Homo sapiens: one gene and its partners. The protein of the gene in region 1 purifies or fractionates together with the protein of each later gene. This does not show direct contact. Each region holds a gene or a part of one and is shown on either strand. Other genes may lie near its edges.

The links.
Region 2: the proteins of CDC25C (region 1) and SUFU purify together in Homo sapiens (affinity purification with mass spectrometry; 5 studies listed by BioGRID and IntAct, with this or other methods). This does not show direct contact.
Region 3: the proteins of CDC25C (region 1) and CDC37 purify together in Homo sapiens (affinity purification with mass spectrometry; 3 studies listed by BioGRID and IntAct, with this or other methods). This does not show direct contact.

The regions. Positions count from the first base shown.
Region 1 is NC_000005.10:138,314,787-138,321,809, reverse strand, and holds part of CDC25C (M-phase inducer phosphatase 3), read left to right. Parts: intron 1-2,435; coding exon 2,436-2,591; intron 2,592-7,023. UniProt on the Homo sapiens protein: Functions as a dosage-dependent inducer in mitotic control. Tyrosine protein phosphatase required for progression of the cell cycle. When phosphorylated, highly effective in activating G2 cells into prophase.
Region 2 is NC_000010.11:102,499,695-102,506,974, forward strand, and holds the start of SUFU (suppressor of fused homolog), read left to right. Parts: upstream 1-4,277; 5' UTR 4,278-4,458; coding exon 4,459-4,640; intron 4,641-5,588; exon of another isoform or gene 5,589-5,621; coding exon of another isoform or gene 5,622-5,725; intron 5,726-7,280. Other genes in the region: ACTR1A (alpha-centractin), read right to left, coding at 2,906-2,953. UniProt on the Homo sapiens protein: Negative regulator in the hedgehog/smoothened signaling pathway. Down-regulates GLI1-mediated transactivation of target genes. Down-regulates GLI2-mediated transactivation of target genes. Part of a corepressor complex that acts on DNA-bound GLI1.
Region 3 is NC_000019.10:10,393,540-10,400,562, reverse strand, and holds part of CDC37 (hsp90 co-chaperone Cdc37), read left to right. Parts: intron 1-4,359; coding exon 4,360-4,635; intron 4,636-5,019; coding exon 5,020-5,128; intron 5,129-5,219; coding exon 5,220-5,335; intron 5,336-5,419; coding exon 5,420-5,542; intron 5,543-7,023. UniProt on the Homo sapiens protein: Co-chaperone that binds to numerous kinases and promotes their interaction with the Hsp90 complex, resulting in stabilization and promotion of their activity. Inhibits HSP90AA1 ATPase activity.

The DNA.
Region 1 (7,023 bases):
ATCCTATGAAGATAAAGTTGATCATGGTTTTTTTTTTTTTTTTTTTTTTTTTTTTTTTTGAGACAGAGTCTTGCTCTGTCACCAGGCTGGAGTGCAGTGGTGCGATCTCAGCTCACTGCAACCTCTGCCTCCTGGGTTCAAGCAATTCCACTGCCTCAGCCTCCCCAGTAGCTGGGACTATAGGCGTGCACCACCACACCCAGCTAATTTTTTGTATTTTAGTAGAGACGGGGTTTCACCATGTTGGCCAGGATGCTCTCGATCTCCTGACCTCGTGATCCACCTGCCTCGGCCTCCCAAAGTGCTGGGATTACAGGCATGAGCCACCGCGCCTGGCCACTAAGTTGATCATGTTTTATTTAGGTTTTTGGTTTCTAGGATGGAGGGAAGACCTGGAGTATGTTCAATTATTGGATAGTCTTATATGTGATTTTTTTTAATTGCAGTAAAATGTACATAATATTTACAATTTTAACTATTTGTGAGTGTGCAGTCTAGTGACAGTAAGTATATTAATAATGTGAGACTATCACCAGAACTCATTTCCAGAATTTTTTCATTATTCAAAACAGAAGCTGTATACCCTTAAGTGATAACTCCCCATCCCTGTTTCTGCCCAGCCAATGATAACCTCTATTTTCTGTGTCAGTGAATTTGACTATTCTAGATACCTCATATGAGTAGAATAATATTATATTTTGTCCTTTCATGTGTGTGTGTGAGGTCTCACTCTGTCACCTCTGCTGGAGTACAGTGGCACAATCATAACTCACTGCAGCCTCAAACTCCCGGGCTCTGATTATTCTCCCACCTCAGCCTACCAAGTAGGTGGGACTGCAAGTGTGTGCCACTATGCCTGGCTACTTTTTTTTTTTTTTTTTTTTTTTTTTTTTTGAGACAGAGTCTCACTCTGTCACCCAGGCTGGAGTGCAGTGGTGCAATCTTGACTCACTGCAACCTTTATCTCCCAGGTTCAGGTGATTCTTATGCCTTAACCTCCCTAGTAGCTGGGATTACAGACGTGTGCTACCATGCCTGGTGAATTTTTTTGTATTTTTAGTAGAGACGGAGTTTCACCATGTTGGCCAGGCTGGTCTTAAACTCCTGGCCTCATGTGATCTGCCCACCTCAACCTAATTTTTTTGTATATTTTGTAGAATCAGGGTTTTGCCATGTTGCCCAGGCTGGTCTCAAACTCCTGGGTTCAAGAGATCCATCTGCTTCAGCCTCCCATAGTGCTGGGGTTACAGGTGTGAGCCACTGCGTCCAGCCTATATTTTCATTTAGCGTAATGTCTTCAAAGTTCATCTATGTCATAGCATGTATTAGAATTTCATTTCTTTTGTATGTATATATCATATTTTGTTTATCCATTCATCTGTTGATGGACATTTTGAGTTGTTTCCAACCTTTTGGCCATTGTGAGTAATGCCGTTATGAACATAGGTGTACAAAATCTGCTTGAGTCCTTGCTTTTATTTTATTTTGTGTATTTTTTTTTTCCAAGATGGAGTCTTTGCCCTGTCACCCAGGCTGGAGTGCAGTGGAACGATCACAGCTCACTGCAACTTCCACCTCCCTGGTTCAAGCAGTTCTCCTGCCTCAGCCTCCCAAGTAGCTGGGATTACAGGCACATGCTACCATGCCCGGCTAATTTTTGTATTTTTAGTAGAGATGGGGTTTCAACATGTTGGCCAGGCTGCTCTCGAACTCCTGACCTCGTGATCTGCTGGCCTCGGCCTCCCGAAGTACTGGGATTACAGGCGTGAGCTACTGCGCCCGGCCCCTGCTTTTAATTCTTTTGGGTATATATTCAGAAGTAGAATTGCTTGATTACATGATAATTCTACATTTAATTTTTTGAGGAACTGCCATGCTATTATCCATAGAATGCCTCTGCACCCTTTTACATTCCCACCAGCAATGCACAAACACTTGTTATTTCTTATAATGGCTATCCTAATGGGTATAAAGAAGTATCTCTTGCAATTTTCATATGCATTTCCATAATGATTACTTTGTTGAGCATCTTTTGATGTGCTTATGGGCCATTTGTATATCTTCTTTGGAGAAATGTCTATTCATGTCCCTTTTGATTGTTATTGTTGTTGTTACTGAGTTGTAGGAGTTCCTTATATATTCTGATATTAATCTCTCATCAAATATAAGACTTGCAAATGTTTTCTCCCATTTTGTGGGTTGCCTTTTCATTCCCTTAATGGTGTTCTTTGATGCACAAAAGTTTTCCATTTTGATGAAGACCAATTTATCTGTTTTTTTCTTTCGTTACCTGTGCTTTTGGTGGCATTATCCAAATCCAGTGTCATGAATTTTTTCCCTTATCTTTTCTTCTAAGAGTTTTATAGTTTTAGCTCTTACATTTAGAACTTTGATATATTTTGAATAGTTTTTAATGTTGTCAATATACTTGACAGGACAATGGAAACTTGGTGGACAGTGAAATGAAATATTTGGGCAGTCCCATTACTACTGTTCCAAAATTGGATAAAAATCCAAACCTAGGAGAAGACCAGGCAGAAGAGATTTCAGATGAATTAATGGAGTTTTCCCTGAAAGATCAAGAAGCAAAGGTAAAGTGTTCTGTGGTAGTATCTTTGTATTCTTCATATTCCTTCATTCTGTTAAAAGAAGAACTAGACAAATTAAACTTAGGAGAGTTTATTTGAGCAAAAAAATAACTAGTGAATCCAGCAACCCTCATAGCCAGAACATGTTCAGTAAAACTCCAGTTTGCCATGTGGTCAGGCAGTATTATGGACAGAAAATGGAAATGAAGTACAGAAAATAGAAGTGAGGTACAGAGACAGCCCAGTTGGTTGCAGCCTTGAGTTTGCCTTATTTGAACATGGTTTAAACAGTTGATTGCTTGTGGTTGACTGAAGCTCAGCTGCTGTGCTTTCCTGAGACTCAGCTTTTTGATACAAAAGTATACTTCTAAATTAGGCTTTCAGTTAGTTTAAGTACTAAGTTAGGTTGCAACTTGGTATATAAAGACTCAAGTACAGAGGCATCCCCAGGCCAAATTTAGTTTAATTAAGAATTCATTCTTCTTTTTTTTGTTGTTTGTTTTTTTTAAGACAGATTCTCGCTCTGTCGCCTAGGCTGGAGTGCAGTGGCGCCATCTTGGCTCACTGCGACCTCCTCTTCCCAGGTTCAAGCGATTCTCCTGCCTCAGCCTCTCGAGTAGCTGGGATTACAGGTGTGCACCACCACACCCGGGTAATTTTTAGTATTTTTAGTAGAGACAGGGTTTCACCATGTTGGCCAGGCTGGTCTTAAACTCCTGGCCTCAGGTGATCTACCCACCTCAGGCTTCCAAAGTGCTGGGATTGCAAGCGTGAGCCACCATGCCCAGCCAACAATTCATTCTTGAATAAACATTTTATGCCTGATATGTATGAGTCACTCTACTAAATGCTAGAGCTACAGAGATCAACAAGATGTGATAACCTATCTTTATTTATTTATTTATTTTTGAGATGGAGTCTTGCTGTGTCACCTAGGCTGGAGTGCAGTGGTGGTATCTCAGCTCACTGCAACCTCCGTCTCCTGGGTTTAAGTGATTCTCTTGCCTCAGCCTCCCAAAGCACGCCATCATGCCTGGCTAATTTTTTGTAATTTTAGTAGAGACGGGGTTTTGCCATGTTGGCCAGACTGGTCTCGAACTCCTGACCTCAAGTGATCTGCCCGCCTTGGCCTCCCAAAGAGCTGGGATTACAGGCATGAGCCACCACGCCTGGCGTAACCTATCTTTAGACTGTAGGGTTACCTGACTGATAGGTTATCAGGTCACTACAGAAATCTTCTTACTGCTGGTGAACAGGTTCCAGTCAATAGTTTGAGTGGATCACCATCAAAGTAATCTAGGATAAGTAATGTCTCCAGGATAATGGTAATGTATAAATGTATAGAATATACCTAACATTACTTTTCAGGTATTTTATAATACAGTCTTTTGTTTCCTTTTTTCTTTCCCATATCACTGATAGATATACCTGAAGCATGTGGGTTATAGCCTATATGCTGATATGCCAAAGATAGTTTCTGAGGCATTTAGCTTTTTTTGGTTTTTGGTTTTTGGTTTTTTTTTTTTTTTTTTTTTTTTTAGATAGACAGGGTCTTTCTCTGTAGCCCAGGCTGGGGTACGTGGCACAATTAAAGTTCACTGCAGCCTCAATCTCCCCAGGCTCTGGCAGTCCTCCCACCTCAGCCTCCAAGTAGCTGGGACTATAGGCACATGCCATCATACCTGGCTAATTTTTTGTATTTTTTGTAGCGATGTGGTTTCACAATATTGCCCAGGCTAGTCTCAAACTCCTGGACTCAAGTGATTCACACACCTTGGCCTCCCAAAGTGCTGGGATTACAGGCATGAGCTACCATGCCTGGCCTACATTTAGCATTTCTAAATCAGCTTTGTTGCTTTGAAACAAGTAGGGCTATGGGTTTGTCTTTAAAATTTATTCATTTCACAAGGCCAGTATGGTATAGTGGAGTTAGAACAGTTGCATTCTAGTCCTCATGCTTTTATTTTTTTTAATTATTTAATTAATTAGATAGGGTCTTGCTCTGCTCTGTCACCCAGACTGGAGTGCAGTGTTGAACTCCTGGGCTCAAGTAATCCTCCCACCTCAGCCTCCTGAGTAGCTAGGACTATAGGTGCATACCACCATGCCCAGCTAATTTTTAAAATTTTTTGTAGAGATGGGGTCTTGATGTGTTGCCCAAGCTGGTTTGGAACTCCTGCGCTCCAGCAATCCTCTTGCCTTTGTTGCGGGATCTTTAGGGTGTTGCTTTTCTGGCCAGAAACCTTTCTGCCCAGTGGTGCCTTTGCCTGAGTTGTTGTCCTGCGTCGAGGTAAGCAGACAAGTAGAGGGTTAGCAAGACGAAGAGAAGCTTTATTGAGTGTTAGAACAGCTCAGAGGAGACCCACAGGGGGCAGCTCCTCTCTGTAGGCAGTTTGTCTTATCCCGTATTCAGCTCTCAGCAGAGAGGAGGCCCTGGAGTGGGTGGCTCCTCTCTGCAGGCAGGTCCTCCCTGTTGATTTCCCAGCTTTCAGCAGACAGCATAGCTCCTCTCTCCTCTTTGGTTGTCTGATCTTTTCTCCATCCTCTACCCTGCTCTGGCTGAGCCTGGGCCTTTTATGGACCTCAGAGGGGAGAAAGTGCTTCCTGATTGGTTCATGGACTGTGAGAAAAGGCAGCACAAATCCCCATCCAGTGGGTGGGACTAGCAGCCCGGTCCCCAGCCTTTAAGCCCTCCCCGTCCTGAAGGTGGGGACTTACAGGAACCTCCCTTCTACCCAGGAGCCTGTCTGTCTCTCTCAGCAGTCCATGGCACCAGGCTGCTCACACCAAGGTGCACCTAAAGGCCAGCACTGACCACCCTCAGTCCCTACTTGGCTTCCCCTCTTTTGCTTCTCCGTGCCCAAATTCTAGAGGGGGTCAAGGTGGCAGGGTGCTGCCCTGAGGGTGCACACACAGATCCGCCCCCGGACTGTAACAGCACCTGGACTTGCCCCAACCCCACTCTGAGATTGGAGTGGGTGCCAAGAGCAGAGAGAAGTGGGGATATGGGGGTGGTGGGGAGGCCTTCCTGGGCCCCCAAGGGTGCAGGCTGCAGAGACTATTAGGTCCTGCACCTGGGAGGGCAGCTGCAGCTGCACCCGGGAAGGCAGGGATCCTGCCTGCTCCCGGCCCCCACAAGACCACAGGGAGGCTCGGATCTGCAGCCACAACTTGGGCGGCTGCAAGCCCACCCAGGAGGGCAGGGCTTCTGCCTGCTCCGTGGAACAGGAGGCCCAGGTTAACAGCTGCAGTTTGTGTAGCTCCAGCAGCACCAGGGGAGCTCCTGCCCCAACTCAGAAGGGGAAGGGCTCCCGCTAGCTCCATGGATCATGCAGCCCTATCCATACCTCTCTGCTGCAGCCAGTTTGATGACAGCAGCAAGCCCTCTGGAGTTGCAGCTGCCAACACCTTGGCCTCTCAAAGTGCTGGAATTACAAGTGTGAGCCACCGTATCCAGCCTCATTCTTTTATTTACTTGGTGGTATGACTGTTCACAAGACAACCACTTGACCTCAGTTTTTAATTTATAAAATGGAGAGCATGATAAAACAACTACCTCCTTAATAGGCTTGTTGTAAATAAAATATTAAAAGCAGTTTATGTCCTCATCACATACACACAAATGGTAACTGTGTGATGAAGGATGTGTTAATGAATTTCATTGTGGTAATCCTCATGTAATATATACGTAAATCATTATATTGTACTCCTTAAGTATATACAAATTTTATCATTTATACCTCCATAAAATAGAAAAAAAAATTTAAAGAGCAGTTTGTAATACAGTAGTCCTCTGTTATCCACAGAGAATACATTCTGAGACCCCCCAGTGGATGCCTAAAATTGCAGACAGTACTGAACCCTATATATACCATGCTTTTCCCTATGCATATGTACCTGTGATGGAGTTTTTTACTTAGGCATAGTAAGAGATTAACAATAATAACTAATAATAAAATAGAACAATTACAACAACATACTATAATAAAAATTATAGGAGGCTGGGCGTGGTGGTTTATGCCTGTAATCCCAGCACACTGGGAGGCCGAAGCGGGTGGTCAGGAGTTTGAGAGCTGCCTGGCCAACATGGTGAAACTCCATCTCTACTAAAAATACAAAAATTAGCTGGGCGTGGTGGTGAGCATCTGTAACCCCAGCTACTGGGCTGGCTGAGGCAGTAGAATCGCTTGAACTTAAACCCAGGTGGCAGAGGCTGCAGTGAGCCGAGATCGCACCGCTGTACTCCAGCCTGGGCAACAGAGTGAGACTCTAACTCAAAAAAAAAAAAAAAAAAAAGTGCTGGCTGGGCATGGTGAGTCAGGCCTGTAATCCCAGCACTTTAGGAGGTTGAGATGGGCAGATCACCTGAAGCCAGGAGTTTGAGACCAGCTTGGCCAACATGGTGAAACCCTGTCTCTATTAAAAATACCAAAAA
Region 2 (7,280 bases), on another chromosome or scaffold:
AATTGAATTTCTATATATTTTTCCTTTTTACAACTAAGAAAAAGGCAGAAGAAGCACAAAGAGCCTGGCTAAAGACAGAAATCGTAGTGCTCTCTGAAAATCAACATCAAGAACAAAAAGTCCTACTCAATTATCTGCAGTAACTAACTAGAGAAAACTCCCCATCTTTTCTTTATTTAGGAATATCTTTGTTACTTTGATAGAGATATTCAGTCATTCATCCAATCACCCATCAATCCAATGAAAAAACATTTATTGAGCACACAGAGGTGCCAGACCCTAGGTATACTGTGTGTGTGTGGAGAGAAGTGGGTGAAGTGAGACTAAAGGAATATCATCTTTCTTAAATTTTTTTTCCCAACACCACTAAACCTGTGGGAGAATATCATCTTTTTCCACAAGGATTTAATAGTCTAGTGAGGGAGACAAAAAGATCCTCTCAAAAATGAAGTATCTGGGCTGGGTGTGGTGGCTCATGCTTGTAATCCCAGCACTTTGGGAGGCCAAGGCGGGTGGATCATTTGAGGTCAGGAGTTCAGGACAAGTCTGGCCAATATGGTGAAACCCCATCTCTACTAAAAATACAAAAATTAGGCCGGGCGCGGTGGCTGACGCCTGTAATACCAGCACTTTGGGAGGCCGAGGTGGGCGGATCACGAGGTCAGGAGATCGAGACCATCCTGGCTAACACGGTGAAACCCCATCTCTACTAAAAATACAAAAAATTAGCCGGGCGAGGTGACGGGCGCCTGTAGTCCCAGCTACTCGGGAGGCTGAGGCAGGAGAATGGCGTGAACCCGGGAGGCGGAGCTTGCAGTGAGCCGAGATCGCGCCACTGCACTCCAGCCTGGGCGACAGTGAGACTCCGTCTCAAAAACAAACAAACAAACAAACAAACAAACAAACAAACAAAAATTAGCCAGGCGTGGTGGTGCACATCTGTAATCCCAGCTACTTGGGAGTCTAGGCTGGAGAATCTCTTGAACCTGGAGGCGGAGGCTGCAGTGAGCTGAGATCGCACAATTGCACTCCAGCCTGGGTGACAAAGCGAGATCCTGTTCCCTCCACCCCCCCACACCAAAAAAAGAGGCGTCTCTGCCAGGCACGGTGGCTCAGGCCTATAATCCCAGCACTTTGGGAGGCCAAGGTAGGAGAATCGCAACAGCCCAGGAGTTTGAGACCAGCCTGGACAACATGGTGAAACCCTTCCTACAAAAAATACAAAAATTAGCCAGGGGTGGTGGCGCGTGCCTGCAGCCCCAGCTACTCGGGAGGCTTAAGCGGGAGGATCACTTGAGCCCAGGAGGTTGAGGCTGCAGTGAGCTGTGATCGCGCCACTGCATTTCAGACTCAGCAACAGAGCGAGACCCTGTCTCCAAAAAAAAAAAAGAAAAAAAAAATGAGCTGTCTCATTGAGCTCAATCCTGCCCCTTTCTAAGGGGGAATAATAAAAACAAAATACCCATGGAGAGAAGGAAAATTTAATGAAAACAACAACAAAAATATATTGGAAAAAGCAAGCAACTTGGAACTGGATCTTAGTCTGATGACTGGCTCCTCAATTCCTAAACTGGATGGTTTGAAATCTGTTATTTAACATCCCTGCATACACTGGGGATAGTAATTCCTATCTACCTAACAGAGCTGAAGCTTAAACGAGAACATTGTAATATGCCTAAGGTCCCAAGAGCTGAATCAACAAAGGGAATCTGACAGAGTCAGCTTACAACAGAGGGAACTGGTAGTTTTGCCTCAATGGAGGGACCTACAAGGGACACAGACAGGGATCAATCTCTGTGGGACCAAAGCTTTGAATCGAAGGCAGAAATGCAGTCGTTTTACAATTTTCTCCTTTCCCCCCAAAATAAGAGCAGTATTTAGATTCTTTCTATTGGTCAATATTGATGCTTCTGCATGGTGGTGCTGGCAAAAGGGATGACGGATAAAGTACTGGATTTAGGGCACCTCTGCTATGTGACCTTGGGCTCACGTTACGTCTTCGCGCTTCAGTTTTCTCATCGGTAACACGAAGATCAAAGTTCCTTTTAAACTATGCGTCCAGTTTTTGTGAGGATCCAACTCGAATGTATGTGAAAACGCCCTGGAAGCGCTAGAGCGCCAGGCAAATATTAAGTTTGGTAATTTTTTCCCCGTAAGAACTAGGCGTTCCAAAGAGGAGGACAACCTCTCTGCTTCCTTTGTCACTCTCCTTTCTTCTCGACCTTTACCAACTTTGTAATTTATAATCACAGTAATAGCTGACATCCTACAGCGGTTTCTGGCACCAGATTCTCGGGCCCCACCCAGATCCACACCACCAAGCCGCAGCGCCGGCTGAGACCGAAGGAAAACTTAGCCGTTCTCCACCCGCGGGCGGGCACTCGCCTCTAGGCCCCACCACCCAGAGTCCCGGAAGCCAATCCCCACAGCCCTGGAGCACTGCCCCGCCCCTTCAAGAGGGAAAACAATATGGCGGCAAGGAAGAATGGCAGGGGCGTGAGCCAATCACCGCAGAGGCCTAGCCTCATCCGGCAAGGCTAAGAGGCGGTATCATTGGCTAAGATGGACAGCCAGAGCAACCAATAGAGCGATCGGAAATGGGGGAGAGGGCGGGCGACGGGAATCTCACACAGCGGTTAAGGCCCCTAGAGCCAAGGGCCCAAGGACTGGCTTGGACTATAACTCTTTCCTTTATCCACTCCAGAGTTCTCCATCCCACTTTTGCTGGCTGGCCGCCTTGCCTGCGGACTATGTGATAAGGGGAGGAAGGAGGCGGCGGTGGCTGAACGCGCCTGACAGGCCGGGCCAGTGACAAAGAGCCGGCGGCTCAGGCTGAACCCCGGGAAGCGATCCTTTCGAGGAGGAGAGCCCAAGTCCCCTTATAGATAGGAAAGACGCAACTCACGTTGTCGATCACGACAGGCTGGTTGGCGATCACATCGTAGGACTCCATGGCAGAGGAATCTCTCCTTCTGGGGAAGGAACTGCCCAGCCGGGTCCGCCGCTAGCGCCACTGACACGCATGCGCAGTCTAGCCGCCGGTTCAGGGCGGCGAGGGAGCGGCCCGACCTCGCCTCTGAAGAACTACAATCCCCAGCAAGCTTTGCGCCTGGGTTAGCGATCTAGCTTGCTTTGTTGCCCGCCTAGTTTAAGATTGGGAGTCGCATTTCCAATGCGCAGTACCCTGGGATTTGTGGTCTCCCTAGATTAAACAGCCAGAGACACAGGTTGATGGTCATGTTGCATGCCTGGATCTGTAGTCCCTTTGAAGGAGTTCGCAGTGCATGCTGAGGTATGTAGTCTTCTCGAGTACTTGTCTGTAGTTCGGTTTGGATTGGTCGTAATTCATGGATGTTTGGATTTTGCAGATCAGCCCTGCCACTCCCCCCGACGTTCCCTTAGACAATATAAGGTTCTCATGTTTTTATTTGGGTCTGTAAGACTTTAATAAACATCTCCTAGCACCTCACACTCTAACAAAAAGGAAATGTTAACACACGTACGCGAGAGGACATATTCCTACAACAAAGGAAAACAATTTAAATTGCATAAAATTAGCTTTAAGTTTAAAAACCTGTACATTGTCGTTGCCTTTTGCATTTTCTTTTTTTCTGCATAACAGGCTAACATTGATCCGAAGATTGGCAATTGGAACTACTGGTATAGGTAATCTTTTGGTCATTAAAACATCATCTAAGGGTTTCAGAAACTGCTCGAGTATCTCTTTAATTTTCATAACGAGCTAGAATTGACACTGATGGTTGAGAAAATGGAGGTGAAGAGAGGTTATGTGTCACTGCTTTCAAATGAGCCCAGTGCATTTTTTTCTCTGGATTATGTTCTCCCCCAGCCCCCTTGAAATTTCAGGGACCTTTTTGTCAATAGCCCTAGAAAACATTAGATTTATTATCATCTATTAATACTAACGCCCCATGGATGAATGAATCAATCCATTGTCAGATTTATGTTTAAATCCTAGTTAGCAGCGCGTCAGCAAAACAGTAACAAATCCTTTGTTGGCGCACTTCTCGCTGCTTTCGTGGGACCTTAGCACCTCAGAGGGTGCTCAGCATCTCTAAACTTGGGTTCCTCCTAACACTAGGGGGAGACCAAGAGCCTTGGGACACTCCCAACACAGGGAGGGGAGGCGGGGCCTATTGTCAAGTCACACCTTCCCTGCCTGTGACTGGCACAGACATTAGCCAATGGGTGCTTGGATAGGGTGCGCCGGCGCCCCGCCCCCCTTAGCGCCCCGCCGCCCCGAGGCACCCTCTGGCAGACTCGGCGGCGGCGACAGCCTGGGCGGACAGTGCGCCGTGCGCAGGCGCGGAGCTAGACCTCGCTGCAGCCCCCATCGCCTCGGGGAGTCTCACCCACCGAGTCCGCCCGCTGGCCCGTCAGTGCTCTCCCCGTCGTTTGCCCTCTCCAGTTCCCCCAGTGCCTGCCCTACGCACCCCGATGGCGGAGCTGCGGCCTAGCGGCGCCCCCGGCCCCACCGCGCCCCCGGCCCCTGGCCCGACTGCCCCCCCGGCCTTCGCTTCGCTCTTTCCCCCGGGACTGCACGCCATCTACGGAGAGTGCCGCCGCCTTTACCCTGACCAGCCGAACCCGCTCCAGGTTACCGCTATCGTCAAGTACTGGTATGCTCTGGGCCGCGGGGAGACGGACAGGCGCGGGCTGGAAAGGGTTAAAGCGCCGAGGGCGAAGTAATTTGTGGGAGGTGGGAGGAGGGGTAGAGAATGGTTAAAGCACTCAGAAGGAGGGCTTCTTGCTGCGAGGGAAGGAGTTAAGGCTCAAGTTGGGAATGGGGACAAAGGGGTTAACGGAGCCCGTGGGTACTGAGGGGTTAACCGGGATTAGGAGAATAGAGTGAGGACTGGGGGTGTGTGTAGGAGCAGAGGGGGGAACGGCAGGAGCGAGGGAACTGTAAACGTGGTGAAAAGAGGGGGCGCCTGTAGGGGGTCATTAGTGGGCGAGGGGAAGCCAAGCGGGGGCGGCCGAAGTGGGATGGGAGAGGCGAGGCGGGGCCTGGGGAGCATTTGAGAGGGCTTTGGAGGAGCGAAGCCGAAGAAGCTCAGAGGGCACGAGACTGCATAGAATGGGGGGTTCGGGGGGCCCAGGGCTCTCCTGTGGTGGGTAGGAGGGCCAAAGATGAGGGCCTGGTGCTTGTGGAGAGAGGAGGAGGTCTCCTTTTGATACCTTCCCGATTAGCTCAGACGTCGTATCAGGGCAAAGCTTTTGCTTTTGAAGTTTGACGGAGCAGCTCTTCCTGATAAACTTTTTGCTTACTCTGCACTGTTCTCTTTCTCCGTGCAGAGCTTCCTCCTAGCTCTGCAGTTGCTTCGCTTTAGGGCATTAGGTAGAGAGAACCATGGTTTGGCTTAGGATTGAAGGGGCCGACAGCTTCCCACCTCCAGTTGGAAATAAATGGTGGAGACTCTGGGACCCCAGCAGGGAGGAATTGTGCAGTGGGACATTAAGAGGAGCTTCTCGGCCATGGCCTGCAGTTTCTCCGGGGAGCTGAGAGTAACCCTCAAGTAGCTTTAGGGTAGGAATGGTCTTTTCTAATTTCCCATTCCTGTTTGCAGCCTGTTTCTTCCTTCAGCATTTGGGCAGAACAGATGTTCTGGGGACTCTGGAAAAGAACCTGTCCTCAAAGTCTTGCTGGACCAAAAACTGAGATATTGGTTGAAACTGTCCAGGACCACATTCATGCAGGCATTGTGTAAGATGATCTTCAATGAGTCTTGAAAGACTGTTCTGCAGCTGCTTGGGGGTGTAGCCAAAGGGTAGACCTGAAGGGGCAAGTGGACATCTTTGCTGGTTACCTCTCCTTTTAGGACTGAGTCTTCCTCCTGGTGAAAACCTGTTGCTTCCCCTGGACATCGGTGTCAGTAGGCTGTGCAGGGCTGAGGCCAGCTGCCCGCATCAATGGGAGGATGCCAAGAGGCCAACAGCGTGGAGAGCCTGGGGACCAGCCACCTGCTGTCTAGGGAGGATTGTAGGGAACAGCCTCCTCTGTCAGAGTAGACGGGAGGAGGTGGAACTGGTGTCGCAGTCCTCTCTCACTGGCGAACTGTTCTCTGGTTGAGAGGAGTTGTTGAAGAGCGCTTCTGAGTGGAAAGCAGCTCTTGCTAGCTTAATGACCCATTCTCATTGTGCCTTTATATTTAACTATGTGTTGTGATGAACTTGTTGTCATGTGTCAGGAGAAAAGTGGGCCTGGGCTGGGCACAGTGGCTCATGCATGTATTCCCACCACTTTGGGAGGCCTTGAGGATCCCTTGAGGCCAGGAGTTCGAGACCAGTGTGGGGAGCGTAGCCAGACCCTAACTCTGTTATTTGAAAAAAAAAAAAAAAAAAAAAAAAAAAGAAGTGGGCCTGGCTCTGCCACGCTGTTTGTTCAGGCCTCATTTGAGTGTGAGGAGAAATCCCTACACAGATTCAGGCAACTATTTTTATGTCACCCAAGTAGCCATAAAGGATAGAATTGTATGTAAAAGGTATGAAAGCATGTGCAAAGGACTAAGGGCAATTTTTTTTTCCTTCCTGCTGCAAGCTTGTTAACAGCCATATCTTCAGAGATGGGCCAACATGTGATAATGAAGAAAAGGGATTATACAGCACTTTGTGAAAGCCCTTCCTAGATGCAGAAAAGTATAAAGAGAAACAGCACAGTGACTGGTACTTTCTTTTTTTTTTGAGACAGAGTTTTGCTCTGTCACCCAGGCTGGAGTGCAGTGGCACGATCTTGGCTTACTGCAACCTCTGTCTCCCGGTTTCAAGCGATTCTCGTGCCTCAGCCTCCCAAGTAGCTGATATTACAGGCACACGCCACCTTGCCCAGCTAATTTTTGTATTTTTAGTAGAGGCAGAGTTTCACCATGTTGGCCAGGCTGGTCTCGAACTCCTGACCTCAAGTGATCAACCCACCTCGGCCTCCCAAAGTGCTAGGATTACAGGCGTGAGCCAGTGCGACCAGCCATCAGTGACTGGTACTTTCTAAGATGTGGAGGGGTTTGCAAAAATAAGATCCTGAAATTCATTTATATTCCTCACATTTGGGATCCCACGAGGTTTCTAGCAGGATGACTGACCCAGGCTGTCTGGGTCTGTCTGTGGCCCAGGGTAGCTTGGGATTCATTTTGCAATAGCAGTGTGGCTCTGTGACTGGTGATCCCTGAGTAGTGGGGACATTCTAACTGAAAGCTGAGACTTTGGTGAGCAAGGATCAAAGCAGAGAGGCAGAACCTGTACTCATGGCCCACTTCAGTCCTGCA
Region 3 (7,023 bases), on another chromosome or scaffold:
ATGCCTGGTTGATTTTTGTACTTTTTGGTAGAGACAGGGTTTCACCATGTTGCCCAGGCTGGTCTCAAACTGCTGAGCTCAGGCAATCCACCTGCCTCAGCCTCACAAAGTGCTGGGATTGTAGGTGTGAGCCACCAAGCCTGGCCTAAGACCTTGTCTCTTAAAAAAAAAAATTTCAAAGTTTCCAGAAGCGGACAAATGAATCCCTTTTCTCAGCCCCAGCTCGCCGGCTCTCCTGCCCAGAGACAGCTGCTGTTAGTGGTTTCTTCTAATGAGTTGTATGACATTGAGATTCTGTGAGCCTCAGTTTCCCTAACTGTAAGGCAGGAGGGTAGTGACATCTGTGGGCCCTGCTTGCTGGGGTGGCTTCTCCCCTGCCCAGCCTGCTACAGCCCCTCCCCGATAGGAGGTGTAAAGCCCAGGCTGGGCAGGCTGCCGCCCCCGCCAACTCCAAGAGGCCTTTTTTAGCTGCGGCCTCCCTGGCAGTTGTTCAGAGGACACAGGGGAGACTGGTGGCAGCCCAGCAGCGGATTGCAGGGTGGTGGGCAGGCTCCAGGGTGACACAGGCCCATCGTGGAGAAAGGGAGTTGGAGAGGCCACAGCTGCTTTTTTTTTTTTTTTTTTTTTTTTTAAGACGGAGTCTCACTCTGTTGCCCAGACAGGAGTGCAGTGGTGCCATCTCGGCTCACTGTAACCTCCACCTCCCAGGTTCAAGCAATTCTCCTGCCTCAGCCTCCCGAGTAGCTGGGACTACAGGTGCGCGCCACCATGCCCGGCTAATTTTTGTATTTTTTAAGTAGAGATGGGGTTTCACCATGTTGGCCAGGCTGGTCCCGAACTCCTGACCTCATGATCTGCCCGCCTGGCCTCCCAAAGTGTTGGGATTACAGGCATGAGCCACCACACCCAGCAACTTTTTTTTTTTAAGAGATGGAATCTCACTATGTTGCCTAGGCTGGTCTCAAATTCCTGAGCTCAAGTGATCCTCCCACCTCGGCCTCCCAAAGTGCTAGGATTATAGGCATGGGTCACTGTGCCCAGCCTGCAGCTGCTGTTTATCTCATGAGGTATAGCTTTTTTTTTTTTTTTTTTTTTTTTTCAGACAGGGTCATGCTCTGTCGCCCAGGCTGGAGTGCAGTGGGGCGATCTCAGCTCACTACAACTTCTGCCTCGGGTTCAAGCGATTCTGCCTCAGCCTCTGGAGTAGCTGGGATTGCAGGCGCCTGCCACCACGCCTGGCTAATTTTTGTGTTCTTAGGAGAGACGGGGTTTCACCATGTTGGCCAGGCTGGTTTCAAACTCCTGACCTCAGGTGATCCACCCGCTTCGGCCTCCCAAAGTGTTGGGATTACAGGAGTGAGCCACCACGCTCGACCACGTAGGCCTTCTTGACCCCTTATACATATAGGGGAATCCGAGGCTCAGGCTGGCTGTGTCAGTCCCCTGGGGTATTAGAGTAGGGGCCAGCTCTGCCTGGCCCTGCCTTAGAACCTGGGGACACAGCCTCAGATAAGGCACAGGAATGAGTCAGCAGACCATTCAGGTGGCAGTGACAAGGACGGAGATGGTAACAGTGGGACACACCTACTGAGGGCTGTTTTGGAAGCATTTTCCATAGAGTTAGTCATTCAGTTCTCACGGCGATCCTGTGAGACTCCATTTCACAGAGGGGAAGACCAAGGCTGGGAAAGGTTTCAGTGACATGGCCAAAGTTCCATCTCCCGTCAGTGGCACAGCCGGGTGCTGTGACCATGTAGTAACAACCACTCCCAGTTATTGAGCGTGTACTCTGGGCCAGAAATTAAACTAAGCATTTGAAGGACATTTCCTTTTTGAGGCCCCAGAGTGGTCCCCAGAGAGAGAGAGAGATTGTTCTCTTGCACAGATGGTAATGACCCTGGCCAGTACAGGAAGGGTGCGTGCTGAGGGCCCACATGGCTCGGGACATTTTACTCTAATCATCTCCTTAGTTTCTTCCAATATGAGCTTGTGCAGTCAGCATTGTTGACTGTTTGACAGATGAGGAAACTGAGGTTACAGGAGGTTAGGGGATGGCCCGGGATACCCAGCCGGTACATGGTGGCTGTGGGCTAGGACCCAGGGGCCGTTGCCCCAAGGCTGTCCTCCAGCACCCTCACCACATCGTCAGATGGTCACAGGAGGTCCTTTAGGGATCAGTGGTGCCTCAGGCAGGGAGCATTTGGGGAAGGCTCTGTTGAAGCTGAGTTTTGGGTGCAAAAGCAGGTAAGGGAACCGCACATGCAGAGGCCAAGAGGCAAGACAGAGCCCGTACTTTCGGGGAACGATGAGGGCCAGTATCTGCCTGGGACCCAGGACCAGGATGCCAGGATCAGAAGTCCCATCTGAATTCAGACCCCCCAAGATGTAGTGGGGAGGACTCTGGTCACGTGGTCAAATGCATGGGCTTCACAGGCCTCCCTGGTGGCAGCTGTGCCTGGATTGGAGAGGGTCAGCAATTGAAGGTGGTGGCACGTTTCAGGGTTTCAGGGTTTGATTAGTGGCTCTGGATAGAGCAGCCTCCACTGAGGTTCAGGAGAGGTGATGGTGGAGCCACGCAGGGGTCTCAGGAGAGGCCTGTACAATCCGATGGGGCCCAGATGGAGGTCTGAGGGAGACAGGGAGTGAGGCGGGGACCAGGAGCCTGAGGAGATGAGGCACTGTTATAAGGAGAAAGAGGAGTGCCTGGGGAGTGACATCTGGGGCTGGGGTGAGCGGGAAGCAGGTAGACACCAAGCTGGGGCTCAGGAGGGCATGCTGGGCTGGAGACAGAGCTAAGAGGGCCTTGGCAGTGATCCTGGGGCAAGGTTATGGGTGGAACAAAGAAACATCTAGAAGGGGCCCTGGTGCAGTGGCTCATGCCTGTAATCCCAGCACTTTGGGAGGCCAAGGTGGGTGGATCACTTGAGGTCAGGAGTTCAAGACCAGCCAACATGGAGAAACCCCGTCTCTATTAAAAATACAAAATTACCCAGGCGTGGTGGCGCGTGCCTGTAATCCCAGCTACTAAGGAGGCTGAGGCAGGAAAATTGCTTGAACACGGGAGGCAGAGGTTGCAGTGAGCCAAGATCACGCCACTGCACTCCAGCCTGGGCGACTCCGTCTCAAAAAAAAAAAAAAAAAAAAAAAGCCAGGCTTGGTGGTTTGTGTGCACCTGTAGTCCCAGCTACTTGGGGTTGAGGCAGGTTGAGCCTGGGAGATCAAGGCTGCAGTGAGCCATTATCACACCACTGCACTCTAGTCTGCATGACAACAAGACCTTGTTCAAACAAAACTGAACAAAATAAAAACAAAAAAAAAAACAAGCATTTGCTGAGCCCGTGCTTTGCACCAGGCCACGTTCCTGGTTCTGGGAACAAAATGGCGAACACGTTCCCATATTTAGAGAGCAGGGCTTCATTCATTGGAGGGGGGCAGTACCCAAAACGTGATAAATAATTGTCATATGATGTTAGTGGTTGCTGATGTTGAGGAGGCAGGGAATTCCAGACAGGGGCAGCGGGAAGTTGCCATCATCAGGAAGGTGGTTGGGGAAGGGGTCCTCGCTAAGGCAACATGGAGCCCAGATGGCACGGGTGCCATGGAGTCAGCTGTGGGGGGCTCTGAAGGAAAAGCATTCCAAGTAGTTGGAACAGCCAGTGCGAAGGCCTTGAGGTTCAAGAAAAAAGTGGGCTCCGCAGAGTGCAGTAGCTCCCGCCTGTAGTCCCAGCACTTTGGGAGGCCGAGAGGGAAGGATCGCTTGAACCCAGGACTTCAAGACCAGCCTGGGCAACATGGCAAACCCCATCTTTACTGAAAATACAAAAATTAGCTGGGCGTGCTGGTGCACACCTGTAGTCCCAGCTACTTGGGAGACTGAGGTGGGAGGATCGCCTGAGCCCAGGGAGGTCGAGGCTGCAGTATGTCATCATTGGGCCACTGCACTCTGACCTGGACGACAGAGTGAGACCCTGTTTTTTGTTTTGTTTTGTTTTGTTTTCTTAAACAAAAAAAATGGCCTCAAGAAAAGGTGAGAAAAGTGAGGGGCTGGTGTAGCTGGAAGGAAGAGTTACCAGGGGAGGTGCCGAGGCAGATTGTGTAGGGCCCATGTAGGCTGTGGTGACAACTTGGGTTCTGCTGTGAGATGGGAGCCGCCAGGGTTCTGAGCAGAGGACGGAGGGACCTGACCCCACTTGGGTGTGCGCTGGCACCTGTGGGCGCAGGGGCGGAAGCTGGGAGACCAGGGCACGGGAGGTGGACGCGTACTTTTTCCTGGGGCCATCTCCGGTGCAGGGATTGGGTATGGGGCGGGGGTAAGGGACAGACGACTCCCCAGAGTTGATAGGCCGTCCCTGCCCGCAGGCCCGGGTGGAACGCATGGAGCAGTTCCAGAAGGAGAAGGAGGAACTGGACAGGGGCTGCCGCGAGTGCAAGCGCAAGGTGGCCGAGTGCCAGAGGAAACTGAAGGAGCTGGAGGTGGCCGAGGGCGGCAAGGCAGAGCTGGAGCGCCTGCAGGCCGAGGCACAGCAGCTGCGCAAGGAGGAGCGGAGCTGGGAGCAGAAGCTGGAGGAGATGCGCAAGAAGGAGAAGAGCATGCCCTGGAACGTGGACACGCTCAGCAAAGACGGCTTCAGCAAGGTGTGCGGGGCGGGCGGGGCGGGCAGTGCGCATGCGCAGCCAGAGAGCCTGCAACCAGGACGCATGCGCACCCAATGCCTGGTCAGGGGAGGACCCCGGTGGTGTAGTTGAAGAGTGTGGTGGGGGGCGGGGAGCTGAGGGATGGACGGGGGCCACGTGGGAGGGGGGACAGGCTTGGGGGGCCGGGCGGATGAAACACCCCACCGGTCCCCTCCTCTGATCTGCCCCAAGGCCCATGCCCACGCTCCCGCCACCTTGATGCTCATGGCTTCGTCACCACCTCCGCCGTGGATGGGATGGGCGCTGCGACCACGGCCCGCCCGGCCGCGCTCGAGGCGCTCCGCAGCCTTGCCCCAGCCCACTCCCCCTCTCACCCTACCACAGAGCATGGTAAATACCAAGCCCGAGAAGACGGAGGAGGACTCAGAGGAGGTGAGGGAGCAGAAACACAAGACCTTCGTGGAAAAATACGAGAAACAGATCAAGCACTTTGGTGAGTGGGGCTTGTGGGTTATGGGGGGCAAGGTCGAGGCAGGCCCTTTGCCTCCAGGGCCCTCCAGCACCTTGCCAGCATCTTCCCACAGGCATGCTTCGCCGCTGGGATGACAGCCAAAAGTACCTGTCAGACAACGTCCACCTGGTGTGCGAGGAGACAGCCAATTACCTGGTCATTTGGTGCATTGACCTAGAGGTGGAGGAGGTGAGTGGAGCTTTCCCCGGGACTGTGAAAAGGCGCTGCCATGAGGCCGCCACTTGGTGACGCTGTGCCTGTTCTTCCTGGCAGAAATGTGCACTCATGGAGCAGGTGGCCCACCAGACAATCGTCATGCAATTTATCCTGGAGCTGGCCAAGAGCCTAAAGGTGGACCCCCGGGCCTGCTTCCGGCAGTTCTTCACTAAGATTAAGGTAGGGTCCCTGAGCTGCCAGGTGGCTGGAGGCCCCCTCCCCAGGGAACCAGCCCACAATGCTCTAGGTAAGGCCGACTCCTCTCCACTGGGACTCAAGCCCCTCCAGTCACCGCATCCTAGATCAGGAGAGGGTGGGGCCAGGGAGGAGGAGAGAAGTGGGCAGATTCTGCCAGACTTTAAAAGTGGAGGCCGGGCGCAGTGGCTCACGCCTGTAATCCCAGCACTTTGGGAGGCTGAGGTGGGCAGATCACCTGAGGTTGGAAGTTTGAGACCAGCCTAACATGGAGAAACCTCATCTCTACTGAAAATACAAAATTAGCCGGGCATGGTGGTGTGTGCCTGTAATCCCAGCTACTCGGGGGGCTGAGGCAGGAGAATCGCTTGAACCTGGGAGGCAGAGGTTGCTGTGAGCCGAGATCGTGCCATTGCACTTCAGCCTAGGCAACAAGAGCGAAATTCCATCTCAAAAATAAATAAATAAATAAATTAATTAATTAAATAAAAGTGGAGGTCAGGCCAGGCTTGGTGACTGAGTACTATAGTCCCAACTATTTGGGAGGCTGAGGCAGGAGGATCACTTGAGCTCAGGAGTTTGAGCTGTGGTTTGCCACTGCACTGCAGCCTGGGTGACAGAGCAAAACTGCATTACAAAAAAATGTGGGAGCAGTAGGATGTGCTGAAGGTACCCAGGTGAATATGTGGGTAAAGGACAAAGGTGAGGGTGCCTCTAGGGTTTTGGGTTTTAGTTCATTTTTGAGACAGAGTCTTGCTCTGTCACCAAGGCTGGAATGCAGTGGCGTGATCTCAGCTCACTGCAACCCCTGCCTCCCGGGTTCAAGCAATTCTAGTGCTTCAGCCTCCCAAGTAGCTGGGATTACAGGTGCCTGCCAGCCTCAGGGTTTTTTTGTTGTTGTTGTTTTGTTTTTTTTGAGATGGAGTCTCACTCTGTTGCCCAGGCTGGAGTGCAGTAGCACGATCTCGGCTCACTGCAACCTCCGCCTCCTGGGTTCAAGCGATCCTCCAGCCTCAACCTCCTGAGTAGCTGGGACTACAGGCATGTGCCACCATGCCCGGTTAATTTTTTGTATTTTAGTAGAGACGGGGTTTCACCGTGTTAGCCAGGATGTTTTCGAACTCCTGACCTCGTGATCCGCCCGCCTCGGCCTCCCAAAGTGCTGGGATTACAGGCGTGAGCCACCGCGCCCGGCCTAGCCTCTAGGATTTTTAACCTGCGTACCTGGAGGAACAGGGCTATCCTTACCGAGATTAGGGAGACCAAGGACAAGGCAGGCTGGGAGGTGGCCATGTTGAGTTAGAGGTGCCCATGCAGGGACACTGAGGACATGAGTGTCTCAGATCTGCAGTAGAGCAGGGCTCCCAAGCAGGTGGTCTTTGGCAAATGCCAGATGAGGTCCCCGGCGGGGGAGCCCAGGCCTTGGGGAGCCCTTCATGTAGGTCAGGAATAGACTTGGGGAACCG